Linked DNA regions of Homo sapiens: region 2 is linked to region 1. Evidence: fine-mapped expression QTL. A gene starts in region 1. The other region holds a variant in brackets. All regions are shown on one strand. Distances are between the middles of the regions.

Region 1 (2,500 bases):
AAACCAGCTTAAAAGACATATCAGGATCCAAGCAAGATGACACATTGTATTTGGTTATGTTTTCTAGCTCTTCTATTTTGGAACAACCCCTCCCTACCACTTATATTTTTCTTTTCTTTTCTTTCTTTCTTTCTTTCTTTTTTTTTTTTTGAGACAGAGACTCGCTCTGTCACCCAGGCTGGAGTGCAGTGGCACGATCTCGGCTCACCGCAACCTCCGTCTCCGGGGTTCAAGTGATCCTCCCACCTCAGCCTCCTGAGTAGCTGGGACGCCTGGTGTGCCACACTACATCCCACCAATTTTTGTATTTTTAGTAGAGTTGGGGTTTCATCATATTAGCCAGGCTGGTCTCCAACTCCTGACTTCAAGTGATCCGCCCGCCTCGGCCTCCCAATGTGTGGGATTCCGGGTGTGAGCCGCTGCGCCTGGCCCACTTATATTTTTCATGGCATCCCATTTATGAAGAGACCAGGCTCCCTATTTTATGTAACGTGGGAATGGATCTTCCTGTTCATCTCCTCTGCTCAGTGTACGGTCTAGCAAGAGCAGACTCTCTGTAGGTGTTTGTTGAATAAATGAAACCAATAGTAATGGTTATTAATAACAATCCCAGTAGCCAATTTTTATTGACTATTCTCTTGGCCAGTGTGCTCACGTTAATCTAATTTGAACCTCACAGAAATCTTACGCGTTATGACATATTTGTCTTATTCACAGGTGAGGAAACCAAGGCTTAGGGAAGGAAAGTCGCTTGTCTGAAATCACAGCTAGAAAAGGGGCCAAAACCCAAGGGTGGACCCACTGGCTGGAAAACAGTGCAGTTAGGCAGGGGCCCCTGTTTCTTAATAATGAATGAACCAACGACCCCCAAGGCTGGTTTGCCCGTGCACACGCACGCACGTGTGCAACACGTAGCACTTGCTGAGTGTTTGCTACTTGCCAGGCCTCATGTCAAGCACTTTACGCGTGCTTTTATGCCCTACGTTTTGTTTTTGTCTGTTTTGCTTTTTTCCCCTAATGCCTAGCCAAAGGCGTGGCCCAGGCGCCCAGGCAGGACTTGGGGAGTGAATGAAGAGTGAACAAATGAATGAATGCGCGGCAACGGGATCTTCATAAACCAGACCCTCCTCGGGGATCTAATGCGAACACTCCCGAGGCCCGGGCCCAGGTACGCTGAGGGCGGCTCGTGGGCCCCAGGCCGACCTCAGCCCGCGACTCCCGGGCTCCGGGGGCCCAGGTGGCCCCCAGTAGGTGAGGAGCCGGGCCCGCCGGCGCCTTGGCGTTGCCACCTCTACCTGCCTGCCCTCTCCCCTTCCGGATCCACAGCCAGGCCTCGGCGGGCTCCTGGTGTGCAGCCGCCCGGCCGCTTCCGCCCGAGGGTCGCGGGGCTCAGAGTCCGGCAGGCTCCAGGCGGGGCAGGGGATGTCCGCGGCCCGGCAGGCGCACGCCCACCTGTCGGCCGCGCAGGCGCAGCAGCGGGCCGGCCTCCCCGCGCCCCGCGGCGCGCGGCCAGTGCGCAGGCGCGGCGGCCGATGCGAGTGTGTATGTGCGGGCGAGAAGATGGCGGCGGCGGGGGAAGCAGCGTGAGCAGCCGGAGGATCGCGGAGTCCCAATGAAACGGGCAGCCATGGCCCTCCACAGCCCGCAGGTAGCCGCCGGTCTGCGCCTTCGGCCGGAAGGGGCCCGAGCCCCGGGCGGGCGGACGCCGCGGCGGGCGGGCGTCCGCGCCCTGCCCGGAGCGAGCGTGTGGGAGTGGGGGAGGGCGCTGGGACACGCTGCCCGGGCCTAGGCCGGAGCCACCCGCCGCCTCCGCGCCCGCCGCGCCTTCGTCCCCTGAGCCACCCGGACCCCCTAGTCCCGGGGAGGTCGAAGGGCGGGGGCTCCGGGCCCCGCTTGGGGAGGGCGTGGAGGGCGCCGAAGGGGTTAACCTCCCTGGGGCTGGACCGCGGGGCGAGCCCGGGGTGTGGAGTGGGGCCCTCCCCGCCGCGCCGGCCGGGGGAGGCGGCCCGGGGGCTCCGGGAGTCCCCTGGAGCGCAGGGGCCCCAGAGCAGCTCAGGTTGCTGCCTCTGCCTGGAGCGAGCCTCAGAGATTTGGGGGTGCCCTGTTGCCCCTTTGCCCCAAGAGCTTCCTTTCTCAGCTTGATTGATGATGCGGGGGTTGCCGATTTTCTGTTTTTTAGATAGAAGTAGCAGAGTAGCGGCCTTGGGCTGCTGTTGCAAAGAAAACTCGAAATAAGTCGCAAGGACCGTACTTTCACTTGCGTTTGAGTGACATCCCTTGCACGAATCCATCCCAGCCAGGCTGACAACTAACGCACCCTGCCTGAACAGTAGCTAAAGCTTGGGGGCCCTTTACAATAATCCCGTGGTGGAAAGAAAGAGCTCTTTTTGGGAGATGTGCGTGTAGAGTTAAGCTCTTATTCCCCTCTCCCACCCCTTCTCTCACATCTTCTCCCCCCTCCGCCATTATAATTATTCTGGACAAAAATCGGCATGATGTA
Region 2 (3,013 bases), 65 kb after region 1:
AGCTAACAGTTTAGTTCATCTCAGGTGCTAAAGCATCTCCTGCGTAACCACAGTCCCTTATCTAACTGAGAAAAACAACTGTAATGACACGGTAATACCGACTTTGCAGAGCATCTTCAAATTTCGCCAGTTGTCCCAGGGATGTCATTTCTAGGAGTTTATGTAAACAAGGATCCAGTGGTGGTGCACCTGTTGCGATTGGTTGCCGTGGATCAAGTGGCATTGCAATGGGTTGCAGTGGATCCAGTGGCATTGCGCCTGTTGTGATTGGTTGCCGTGGATCCAGTGACGTTGCACCTGTTGCGATTGGTTGCCGTGGATCCAGTGACGTTGTGCCTGTTGGGATTGGTTGCCATGGATCCAGTGACGTTGCACCTGTTGCGATTGGTTGCCGTGGATCCAGTGACATTGTGCCTGTTGCGATTGGCCGTGGATCCAGTGACGTTGCTCCTGTTGCGATTGGTTGCCGTGGCTCCTAATGTAGACCACACCCTGATTTCATTTTTAAAACTGCAATCGACAGATCTGTGCCTTTTTTTTTTTTGCTGTTCTTGTCGTAAATAGTAGTGTAAGCAGATGCTCTCCTTTTCAGAACTTACGATTTCCAACGGCCCCAAAAACCACTCGGTCAATGAAGAAGAGCAGGAAGAACAAGGTGAAGGAAGCGAGGATGAATGGGAACAAGTGGGCCCCCGGAACAAGACTTCCGTCACCCGCCAGGCGGATTTTGTTCAGACTCCAATCACCGGCATTTTTGGTGGACACATCAGGTTTGTGCTTTTCTGGAATAACTTAATATTTGCCTTTTCTAGGGTTTTGCCATGTTGGTGAAGGGGGAAGGTGTGAGGCTTGTTTTGAGACTTCTTGGACGTAATGGTTTGCATCTTGCTCCCCTGCCTGCTCTTCTCTTGCACTTCCTGATGCTTCCCTTGTCAGCCCCCGTGGCTTATTCTCTCCCTGCTGGCGCATGTCTGCAGGGGACAGGGAGCTCCTCCCTTCTACTCTGTCAAGTTCAGCTGCTCACTGCTAGGGAGTAAGAGAAAAGCCAGCTAATTGGCCATACGCGGTGGTTCATGCCTGTAATCCCAGGACTTTGGGAGGCCAAGGCGGGTGGATCACCTGAGGTTAGAAGTTCGAGATCAACCTGATCAACATGGTGAAACCCCGTCTCTACTAAAAATACAAAAATCAACCAGGTGTGGTGACAGGCACCTGTAATCCCAGCTATTAGGGAGGCTGAGGCAGGAGAATCGCTTGAACCCAGGAGGCAGAGGTTGCAGTGGCCCAGATAGCGCCATTGCACTCCAGCATGGGTGACAGAGTGAGACTCTGTCTCAAGAAAAAAAAAAGAAAAAGATACAGGAGAATGTCATCATGACTTAGGGGTAGGCAAAGGTTTCATAAGATAGGTCATAAACAATAACCACGAGAGAGAGAGAAAAAAAAATATATATATATATATTAGACTTCATCTGCATTTAAAACTTGCAACATAAAACCACCTCCGGGAGGCAGAGGTTGCAGTGAGCCAAGA[T/G]TACACCACTGCACTCCAGCCTGGGTGACAGAGCAAGACTGTCTTCAAAAAAAAAAACCAGCTAACCAAACCATGTGTTTTGGTAAGAGAAGACAGTGTATCTGGAGGAATTTTATTTATGTTAATAAATTGTGTATATTTAAAGTATACACAGATGTTATGAAATAGAGATAGTAAAATAGTTGCTACAGTGAAGCAGATAAACATATTCCCCATCACAGTTACCCTTGTGTGTGTGTGTGTGCACATGGCAAGAGCAGCTGCAGTTTTACTCATTTCACAAAAGTCCCAAATACAGTGCACTATGAGTAGCTCTTGTCCGATGTTCCACATCAGATCTCTAGACCTGTTCGCCTGTGTGGCTGCCCTTGGTGTCCTTCGACCGACATCTTCCATTCCCACTCGCCACCCCTAGGAACCACTCTTTTCCCTATCTCTGTAGTTTCGTCTTTTTTTTTTTTTTAATAAAGATTCCATGTATAAGTGAGACCATGCAATATTTTTCTTTCTGTGTCTGACTTCTTTAACTTAGTATAATGTTCCCCAGGTTCATTCCTGTTGTGGCAAATGGCAGGGTCTTTATTACAGCTGAATAGTGTTCCCTTGTCTATATATACACACCACAGTTTCTTTATCCATTGGCCCATCCACAGACAGTTGTTTCCCTGTCTTGGCTGTTGTGAACTGATTGGAAGCAGGTGAGGTAGAAAGTGAAGAGAGTGTGAAGGGAGGTCTTTTTTACACAGACAGACCCGTGACTGGGCTGGAGTCCCTGGGCACCTGGCTGTGTGCCAGTTCCCTTAAGCAGCTTTTTGCTCATTCACAAAGTCCTTCGGAAAGGTTTTTCTTTATTTACCTGAGAGCTTTTCAGTACCACTGTGATGTGGAATTCAGCAAAACTTGTACCATCTCCAAGAAGGTTTACCCATCGAAAGTACTGAAGAGGCCTCATTGGAGCCTAATTTCCTTTCTGAGGCCTTGCGGCATAACCCCCAGGCTGGTATTTCAGTGACACTCTTAGTCTGTTGTTGTCCCAAATGCTGCGTACCTGAAAGAAAGAGCACCCCTTTTGAGGCATCAAGACTTGATTCAGTCTCAGTTCTGAGACTGAATCAACAACTTTCAACAGGTGAATAATAAGAACCTCAGAAACCTGCGCTGACGCCCTCAGAAGCTGGTTTCCCGTCCTCTGTGGAAGTGGATTTAGAAGCCAGTTGAGCAGCCATGTGACCTTGAACAAGTCACTTCTGTGTTCTGCACTGTGAGCTCTATTCCACTGGCCCCTTTCTATTCTGGTGCTCTGTGGAGTGTCCACGGCAGCTGGGTGGTCAGTTGTCACCTGGGAAACACCCAGCCCTGACCACTGTCTGTGGTTCCTTGGGACACGTCGTGTTGGGAGGGAGACGCTGAGGTCCAGGTTGGCGCGCAGCAGCGAGGGAAGGCTGTGCCCTTTGCTCCTTCAGCCCAGCAGCCTGGTTT

The links. PIP is the estimated chance that this variant, and not a neighbour inherited with it, causes the effect.
Region 2: its variant is fine-mapped to the expression of USP10 in whole blood (TOPMed, PIP above 0.99).

What each region holds. Positions count from the first base shown.
Region 1 is chr16:84,698,464-84,700,963 of GRCh38, forward strand. It overlaps USP10 (ubiquitin specific peptidase 10), which reads left to right and starts at 1,537. Exons shown (of 14, transcript NM_005153.3): 1 at 1,537-1,648. The coding sequence starts at 1,628. RefSeq lists silencers at 1,009-1,528, 1,619-1,838, 1,849-1,958, 1,999-2,108.
Region 2 is chr16:84,763,494-84,766,506 of GRCh38, forward strand. USP10 (ubiquitin specific peptidase 10) reads left to right here. Exons shown (of 14, transcript NM_005153.3): 10 at 593-770. Among named protein-coding and RNA genes, the nearest start is that of CRISPLD2, 55 kb to the right of the region's middle. The variant T/G (reference allele first, on the strand shown) is at 1,535.